Linked DNA regions of Homo sapiens. The protein of the gene in region 1 purifies or fractionates together with the protein of each later gene. This does not show direct contact. Each region holds a gene or a part of one and is shown in the gene's direction. Other genes may lie near its edges.

Region 1 (5,730 bases):
CCCAGGCTGGAGTGCAATGGCGGGATCTTGGCTCATTGCAACCTCCGCCTCCTGAGTTCAAGTGATTTTCCTGCCCCAGCCTCCTGAGTAGCTGGGACTACAGGCACCCGCCACCAAACCCCAGCTAATTTTTTTTTTCTTTTTTTGAGACAGAGTCTCGCTCTGTTGCCCAGGCTGGAGTGCAGTGGCGCAGTCTCGGCTCACTGCAACCTCTGCTTCCCGGGTTCAAGTGATTCTCCTGCCTCAGCCTCCCAAGTAGCTGGGATTACAGGTGCGTGCCACCAAGCCCGGCTAATTTTTGTATTTTTAGTAGAGACGGGGTTTCACCATGTTGGCCAGGCTGGTCTCAAACTCCTGACCTCAGGTGATCTGCCCGCCTCAGTCTCCCAAAGTGCTGGGATTACAGGTGTGAGCCACTGCGCCTGGCTATGAAGGCTTTTGTGTGTGTGTGTGTGTGTGTGTGTGTGTGTGTGTGTGTGTGTGTGTGTCTGAGGGGTCTTAATTGATTAGGAGCATGAAACAAAGTTGGCATGATGCAGGAGACAGAGGGAATTATAAACTTGCTCTTCCATCAGAATTCATAAATTCTGCTAACACATATTTTGTAGAGATGGGGCCTCACTGTGTTGACCAGTCTGGTGTGAAACTCCTGGCCTCAGGTGATCTACCTGCCTTGGCCTCCCCAAGTGCTAGGATTACAGGCATGAGCCATTGCACCCAGTCACATCTTCCTCTTACACTAACCCTCCTGTCTTCTTCTTATAAAGACTCTTGTGGCTGGGTGCGGTGGCTCACGCCTGTAATCCCAGCACTTTGGGAGGCTGAGGCAGGTGGATCACGAAGTCAGGAGATCAAGACCATCCTGGCTAACATGGTGAAACCCCATCTCTACTAAAAATACAAAAAAAAGAGAATTAGCCAGGCGTGTTGGCGGGCACCTGTAGTCCCAGCTATACGGAAGGCTGAGGCAGGAGAATGGTGTGAACCTGGGAGGCGGAGCTTGCAGTGATCCGAGTTCGTGCCACTGCACTCCAGCCTGGGCAACAGAGCAAGACTCTGTCTCAAAAAAAAGACTCTTGTGATTCCATGGGTCCTGCCCAGATAACCAGGATAATGTCCCCATCTGAAGTGCCTTCATTTGGTCACATATGCTAAGTCTCTTTTGCTATGTAGGGTGAAATGTCACAGGTTCTGGCCATTAGGACATGAATATCTTTGGGGACCATCATCCTGCCTACCGCAAAGTCCCTCTCATGCCACTCTTGTGACTGAGAGAACAGAAAAAAAATAGCAGACCTACGTGAGGTCCTTAATAATTCTCCCTGAGGCTGGGCTCAGTGGCTCATGCCTGTAATCCCAGCACTTTGGAAGGCTGAGGTGGGCGGATCGTTTGAGCTCAGGAGTTCAAGGCCAGCCTGGGCAACATAAGAAGACCTTGTCTCTACCAAAACTACAAAAACTTAGCTGGGCATGGTGGCGCATGTCTGTGGTCCCAGCTACTTGAGAGGCTGAGGTGGGAGAATCGCTGGAACCTGGGAGGCGGAGGTTGCAGTGAGCTGAGATCACGCCAGTGAACTCTAGCCTGGGTGGCAGAGTGAGACTCTGACTCAAAGAAAAAAAAAAAAAAAAAAGCCAGGGACGGTGGCTCACACCTGTAATCCTAGCACTTTGGAAGGCTGAGGCGGGTGGATCACCTGAGGTCAGGAGTTCGAGACCAGCCTGACCAACATGGTGAAACCCTGTCTCTTCTAAAACCACAAAAATTAGCTGGGTGTGGTGTCCGGCGCCTGTAATCCCAGCTACTCAAGGGAAGCTGAGGTGGGAGAATCGCTTGAACCTGGGAGGCAGAGGTTGCGGTGAGCCAAGATCGCAGAGCCAGGGCCACAGAGTAAGACTCTGTCTCAAAAAAAAAAAAATTCTCCCTGGAAGAGGCGCAGTCGCAGTTTTGATAATACACTCTACCACACACACTAGTGAAATGAGGAAAACAAGAGGAAAGCGGAAAGAGAGTGACTGTTTTGTCAAGAGATCCAGGAAGAGACAGCAGAAGTGAAAATCTTTTTCATCAGCCAAGTGGCTCCTCGGATTTCTTAATCTCCCCCCGAACTTCCTCTTCTCCACCCAGAACAGCCATTGGTGAGTGGGGCAGGGCAGGAGGGAACTGAAGAGTGAGAAAGCATTATTTCAGCAAAAGGTCTTTCCTCCCTTGCTCTCTCCTCCAACCACTGGCTCAGCCTCTCCGCCCGCTGCCTGTGAATGATGCAATGGAAGGTGTGCTGGGGTCGCCCTGTGTCCCGTGCATAGGAGCATCTCAGCCTCCAGGTCCTCTCCTTTGGGGCTCACGGCACCCCCATGCTACGAACCGCAGGCAGGGACGGCCTCTGTCGCCTGTCCACCTACTTGGAAGAACTCGAGGCTGTGGAACTGAAGAAGTTCAAGTTATACCTGGGGACCGCGACAGAGCTGGGAGAAGGCAAGATCCCCTGGGGAAGCATGGAGAAGGCCGGTCCCCTGGAAATGGCCCAGCTGCTCATCACCCACTTCGGGCCAGAGGAGGCCTGGAGGTTGGCTCTCAGCACCTTTGAGCGGATAAACAGGAAGGACCTGTGGGAGAGAGGACAGAGAGAGGACCTGGTGAGGGGTAAGGAGGTGGCGGGACAGGCAAGGCTAGAATGCCAGCCGGGTCCAGTGACTCATACCTGTAATCTCAGCACTTTGGGAGGCTGAAGAGGGCAGATCACTTGAGGTGAGGAGTTCAAGACCAGTCTGGACAACATAGTGAGGCTCTGTCTCTACCAAAAATAAAAAAAATTAGCCAGGTGTGGTGGTATACGTCTGTGATCCCAGCTTCTCAGGAGGCTGAGGTGGGAGGATCACTTGAGACCAGAAGGTCGAGGCTGCGGTGAGCTATGATCCTGCCACTGCACCCCAGCCTAGGTGACAGAACGAGACCTTGCCTCAAATATTTAAAATATATTTTTTTAAAATATATATATTTAAAATATATGTTTTAAATATATATTTTAAATAAATATATTTTAAAATATATATTTTAAATATATATTTAAAATATATATTTAAAACATATATTTTAAATATATATATTTAAAACATATATTTTAAATATATATTTAAAATATGTATATAATTATATTATTAAATATATATTAAATATGGTATATATTATATATAAATATAGTATATATTTATTATATAAATATACTATATTATATAAATATGGTATATTATATAAATATATATAAATAATAAATATTATATATTAAATATTTAATACATATATTATTAAAATAAATATTTAAAATACATATATATAAAATCCCTGAGCCTGGGAGATCTGGAATTTATATATATATACACACACGTATATATATGTGTATATATGTGTATATATATGTGTGTGTATATGTGTGTGTGTATATATATTTTAAGAGATGAGGTAGCCAGGTGCAGTGGCTCACACCTATAATCCCAGCACTTTGGGAGGCCAAGGCGGGTGGGTCACCTGAGGTCAGGAATTCGAGATCAGTCTGGCCAACATAGCAAAACCCTGTCTCTACTAAAAATACAAAAATTAGCCAGGCGTGGTGGCACACGCTTATAGTCCCAGCTACATGGGAGGCTGAGGCAGGAGAATCGCTTGAACCTGAGAGGTGGAGATTGCAGTGAGTTGAGATTGCACCACTGTACTCCAGGCTGGGTAACAGAGTGAAACCCCATCTCAAAAATAAATTAAGAAAGAGATGAGGTATCCTTTTTTTTTTTTTTTTTTAAGACTGAGTCTCGCTCTGTTGCCCAGGCTGGAGTGCAGTGGCGCAATCTCCGCTCACTGCAACCTCCGTCTCCCAGGTTCAAGCAATTTTCTGCCTCAGCATCCCGAGTAGCTGAGATTACAGGTACCTGCCACCATGCCTGGCTAATTTTTTGTATTTGTATTTTTTGTAGAGACGGGGTTTCACTATCTTGGCCAGGCTGGTCTTGAACTTCTGACCTCGTGATCCACCCACCTCAGCCTCCCAAAGTGCTGGGATTACGGGCATAAGCCACTGTGCCCGGCCAAGATGAGGTGTCCTTATGTTGCCCGGGCTGGTCTTGAACTCCTGGGCTCAAGCGAGCTTCCACCTTAGCCTCCCAAAGTGCTGGGATTACAGGCATGAATGACCACTGCCTGGCCACCAATTCCCTTTTCTTTCATACTAATCCCTGAGCCTGGGAGATCTGGAATTCTAATTTACGTACACACACATCTATATCTATATAAAAATTTCAACTTTTAGATTCAAGGGGTACATGTGCAGGTTTGTTACATGGGTATATTGAGTGATGCTGAGATTCAGAGTAAGATTGATCCTATCATGCAGGTACTTGAACATAGTAATAGTACCCAATGGTGAGATTTCTCCCCGCCACGAGTCCCCAGTGTCTCTTCTTCCCATCTTTCTGTCCATGAGAACCCAATGTTTAGCTTCCACTTATAAGTGAGAACATGCAGTCTTTGGTTTTCTATTCCTGCATTAGTTTGCTTTGGATAATGGCCTCCAGCTGCGTCCATGTTACTGCAAAGAACATGATTTTGTTCTTTTTTATGACTGTGTACAGAATTCTAATTTCATCCCTTTGGTCTTTGTTCATGCTGTGTTCTGCCTGGAATATTCTCCATCTTCTTTGCCTGGAAAAGTATTACTTACTGAAACCTTGAAGCCACTACCTTCTCTAAAGTAAAGTATTTACTCCTCTTCCCCCACTCCTTCTGATTCCTCGCTCCCACCACTCTGGCTGGCTCAGAAACCCCACTTCTGTGCCTCCTTAGCACTCTTGGATTTCTTTTTGTTGTTGTTGTTGAAACAGAGTCTTGCTCTGTCGCCCAGGCTGGAGTGCAGTGGCGCAATCTCAGCTCACTGCAAGCTCTACCTCCTGGGTTCACGCCATTCTCCTGCCTCAGCCTCCCGAGTAGCTGGGACTGCAGGTGCCCGCCACCATGCCTGGCTAATTTTTTGTATTTTTAATAGAGACGGGGTTTCCCTATGTTAGCCAGGATGGTCTCGATCTCCTGACCTCATGATCCAGCCGTCTCGGCCTCCCAAAGTGCTGTGATTACAGGTGTGAGCCACCGTGCCCAGCCAACATGATTTCTTTTATTATATCTTCTATCTCATAAAATAATCACAATGAGCTGGGTGCGGTGGCTCACGCCTGTAATCCCAGCACTTTGGGAGATTGAGGTGGATGGATCACCTGAGGTCAGGAGTTCGAGACCAGCCTGGCCAACATGGTGAAACCCTGTCTCTACTAAAAATACAAAAAAATTAGCCGGGTGTGGTGGCGGGCGCCAGTAATCCCTGCTAATCTAGAGGCTGAGACAGGAGAATCACTTGAACCCAGGCGGTGGAGGTTGCAGTGAGCGAAGATTAAGCCACTGCACTCCAGCCTGGGTGACAGAGTAAGACTCTGTCTCAAAAAAAAAAAAAAAAAAAAAAGAAAAAATATGATTTATACTCAGGCATAAGCTCAAGAGATAATACATGCAAAGTGCTTAACACAATTCAGAGCAGGTAGCAAGTGCTCAGCAAATATAGGCTATTGCTGAAGTGGCAGAGATGGCACTTGAGCTGTGGAATTGTTTTTTTAAAAATATTTTTATTTTTTACAAAAAATTAGCTGGGCGCAGTGATGGGCGCCTGTAGTCCCAGCTACTCAGGAGGCTGAGGCAGG
Region 2 (4,269 bases), on another chromosome or scaffold:
GGCACATGCCTGTAATCCCAGCTACTTAGGAAGCTGAGGCACGAGAATTGCTTGAACCCTGGAGGTGAAGGTTGCAATGAGCCGAGATCGTACCACTGCACTTCAGCCTGGGCGACAGAGCAAAGCTACACCTTTTTTTTAAAAAAAGAATGATTCAGGAGTTGTGTCAAGGTAGTTGTCATTCCTATGTAATTGAACCAAAGTTTTCTTGGTCTCATAAATACATATAGTAAAAACAAGTGTAGTTCAGTTGTCTGGTATTCTTAATTAAAGATACTATGGTCTGGTTTTTTGATTGATTTTTTTTTTGTTTTGTTGCTTAATAAATTATAACATAGTGAGAATGAGTCCCTTTGGAAGGAGGTGTCAGAATTACGAGCAAAGCATGCACAACAGCAACAAGTTATTCGAAAGGTAAGAAGCTCTTTTCCCCAGGACCATAATTTGCATTTGTTTAATGAGTACTGTTTGTGACCCAAAAAGGTCTTTATTGAGTGTCTGTGATTGATCTTAGTTTCTTACATATTGGATGCACAGATAGAAGTAAAAAATGAAATGAAATTAAGCCAAGTGTTACACATTTTTAATAAAAAATTTCTCACTAGCTAAAGATGGTTATTCCATACTCGCAGATAATGTCTCAGTAGCTTTTAGTAAATGATCTTTTGCCTAATATAACAATTTTGAAATACTTTATTTTTATGAGCATAATGAATACACTACCAATTTCTTTTAAAATTAGAAAACATAGCCTTACTGGTTTTTTTTGTTGGTTTTTATTATAAAAGGCATAGTTAAGGTCTCAGAAGATAAATGACAAATATTTTCAAATCAGTTGACCAAATTATGAGTTCAGAAAATGATTTCTCAATGTATGCTGTTATTAGTCTGTGGAGAAAAGCAGTTAACATAGTGTTGTAAAATGAATTTTAGATTTTAGTATCTGAGCTGAAAATTTAATAGAGGAGTTGGAATCCCTCCGTTTCATTGTGTCCTTGTGATTTAATCTTTGCATATCAGCTTTCATTTGCTAATAAGAGATGAAACATAGTAATTAAGGCAGCTATTTTTTGCTCATGAGTAAACTAGACTCTGAGTTTAAGCAACAGGTTTTTTGAGGGGGAGCTTCTGATTGCTCCTGCTTAGAAGGCCCTTGAACTAAAAATAGGGTTGTGACTGACAGGATCAGGGTCTAATGGAGAAGGCTTTAAAGCAGAGATGAGTAGCAGTTGCAGCCTGTAGCCTAGTCAACATAGATTTACTGTGTTTTTTTTTTTTTTTAAAGTGTGCAAGTGAAGGTTGAATGTAGTAGAATTCAGTTCTAAGTGTTTAGTCCAAGTACATGTATTTTTAAAACTTTCATAGGCAACTCTAATGTGCAGCCTGGTTAAGAATAGTTGACTTAAAACAATAGATGTACCTTAACCTGTACTTTATGGAAACAGTCTGTTAATACTTTTCAGAAACAGTGTTTTGGTAATATATTAGCTTACAACACTCTATAATGTGTAGATTTTTTTTTTCCTGAAAGCAAGAATAGTTGATAAAATAGCTATGTGACATTTCAGTTTTTCATGAATGCTAACATTCTGTCTGCTAAAATTTGAGTTTGAATCTCTGTGCTTTGGTGAGTGGTGTTTATATAATGCATGACGACAACCAATAATTTTTACTCTGCTCCTGGAATTTACTCTCAGCCATGGATTAATTGAGAATAATATGTGTGATGGTCCAGTTATAGGACTTAACAGGTACAGAAGTTACATGCTGTAAGTGTTAGACGCCTTATCTTCTTCAGATAAAAATCCCTGTGTAATGTGATCCAGAAGTGTCAACAGAGAACTGAGATGTAGAATAAATTTAATTTAGCCAGTGATTGATGTTCTTATAAATTCAACCTGAAGTTTTTAGAATATTCCCATAACATTTATTAATTAAAAAAACTGAAGTCGAATTGTATCATAGATATCTTTAAGCTTACATATTGTCTTTTCACTAGCTGTTAACATTTTCTCTTGAATAAGCAATTTAGTGTCTACCCTCCTTTTCATAGACTCTAATACTATGAACCTCTTCAGTTAAAATGTCTATATTTTTTTCCATTGAAAAATTGATATTGATTATAAGGCAGACCATTTAGTAGCCTTTTTTGTAAGGAAATGCTCACTGTTAGAACCTGTACAATAGATATTTTTAATTGATAATACTCTATTTAATCATGTAACTTCACAAAGCTTATAAGCACACTTTCTGCACAGAGTCTAAATAGTGCTCCAATCAATTTTGGCTTTTATTCATAGCTTCTCAGTGATATACTACTTTTTATAGTTTACCATATGATCCTCACCTTTTATAGCACCTTTAGGAAGTTGGCAATGTAATTTCAAGACATACTCTAAGCCAGTAGTTCTTATACTCACATCAGTATCCAGTCTACACTAAAGGGTTTTCTAAACATACTGGATCCCATGATCCGAATTTCAGATTCAGCAGTTCTGTAGTAGGATTGAGAATTTAACATATCCAAAGTTCCTAAGCTAGTGTTCCTGGTATTATGGGCCACACTTTAAGAAACACTACTATAAGATATGAAAGCTTGTTTGTGTGTCTTCACAATTTTCTCTCTAAATTTAATTAAATATTAAAGATTAGCTTCCCTTGTCAGTAGGAAGTTTTGACAGATAGGTCTCAACATTAATCTTTATAGAATCAGACAATAAACTTTTATCTTTTTCTTTTTTTTCTTTGGTTGCAAGCAGAGTTTGTTTGTTTAGAAATGGAGCATCACGATGTTGCCCAGGCTGGTCTCCGACTCCTGGGCTGAAGCAATCCTCCTACCTAGGCTTCCCAAAGTGTTGGGATTACAGGCATGAGCCACCACGCCTGGCCCATCACCTTTTTCTAACTCGAAAATTTCATGATTATTCTGAAGGAACTGACGGTTTATTTTGCCTCTGTTACCTGGTATAAGAAAAATGTTGCCTATCAAACACCAGTTTTCTCTTTTGCACCGTAGTGTAATCTTCAAAGTACTTGAAGTAAAAAAGTTGGGATCTATAGCCAGGCAAGTTTGGTACTTATCACCAAAACAAATAAACTGCCTGGAAGCTGGTATGTTTCTTTAGACGGTGGTTCTACGGTGCGTCTGGATTTCAAGTGTTAATATGTGAGAAATTATGAGACTTAGAGGACAAATTATTATATGAATTTGTTTTATAAGACTTGGTAATAGAGACAAAAGAATTAACAGTATAATGAAATAATTTTTGTTTATATTTTTTTCAGATTGTCCAGTTTATTGTTACATTGGTTCAAAATAACCAACTTGTGAGTTTAAAACGTAAAAGGTAAGTTTTTATGATAAAGTATTATGTCCTGTATATAGGCAGTCACACTTTTTAGTGTTTAACCATGAGTAGCCTACACTTGCTGAGTATGTGCTTGTTGTCCAAAAAGAACAATTCTCCTTTGTTAAATTATACTCTTAAAATCTCTAGAGTAGTATTATTTTTTAGTTTTATCATTCTGCTGATGTTTGTGAGAGATAAGGGTAGCCTAAATGGTCACTTTATAGACATACATACAGTTAATACAAAATATTCACTTTTCATTCACATTATTAAAGTAGCATTAGAAGGCCTGAGTGAAGGAAATTTTTAAAAAGAGGCCATATGTTAAAAAAAAAATGAAAATTTGTTTTACTTGACCTCTCTTAGTTTAAGCCACTCATAGTCTTTTTAAATCTGTATCTCAGCCATGGGTTGTGATACCTGTAAATGTCAGTAGCTACTATTGTCACAGCTAAAACATTAGAAGAATAATGGACAAAAGGAATAGTTGGAAGGAAAAAATGATCTGTAACACTAAGATTTGGGAAAAACTTGATTATGATCAGAGCTTTATGGCCTTAACTACTTCCACTAATTAGTTCTTATGATATTATCTATTTTTTTCTATATAAATACAGTTCATAGAGTTGTGTGGTTCGGTAAGCAATGAAGTATAACTGGAGAGAATAGCTTATTATAACAAAAAGAGTGTAGAAAAGTGGAGAACTGAAAGTCCTAGATATTCTCATCCAGCAGTTTCTGTTCCTAAGATGTAATCATTTTTAAGTTTATTTATTGTTACTGAAATTTTTTATTCATTATTAAGTGAGTGTGCATGTGTGTGTGTTTGGGTAAGTTAATAGAGGGAGTTTAAATTCATTGTATGTTTGCTTCACTGAACTGCATATTCTTCTGGTTTTCAGGCCTCTACTTCTAAACA

Evidence for each region. Proteins that work in one complex are often made in the same cells at the same time.
Region 2: the proteins of NLRP12 (region 1) and HSF2 purify together in Homo sapiens (affinity purification with a luminescence readout; one large-scale study listed by IntAct). This does not show direct contact.

The regions. Positions count from the first base shown.
Region 1 is NC_000019.10:53,820,797-53,826,526, reverse strand, and holds the start of NLRP12 (NACHT, LRR and PYD domains-containing protein 12), read left to right. Parts: upstream 1-2,212; 5' UTR 2,213-2,352; coding exon 2,353-2,641; intron 2,642-2,649; exon of another isoform or gene 2,650-2,746; intron 2,747-5,730. UniProt on the Homo sapiens protein: Plays an essential role as an potent mitigator of inflammation. Primarily expressed in dendritic cells and macrophages, inhibits both canonical and non-canonical NF-kappa-B and ERK activation pathways.
Region 2 is NC_000006.12:122,415,883-122,420,151, forward strand, and holds part of HSF2 (heat shock factor protein 2), read left to right. Parts: intron 1-338; coding exon 339-414; intron 415-3,285; coding exon 3,286-3,347; intron 3,348-4,252; coding exon 4,253-4,269. UniProt on the Homo sapiens protein: DNA-binding protein that specifically binds heat shock promoter elements (HSE) and activates transcription. In higher eukaryotes, HSF is unable to bind to the HSE unless the cells are heat shocked.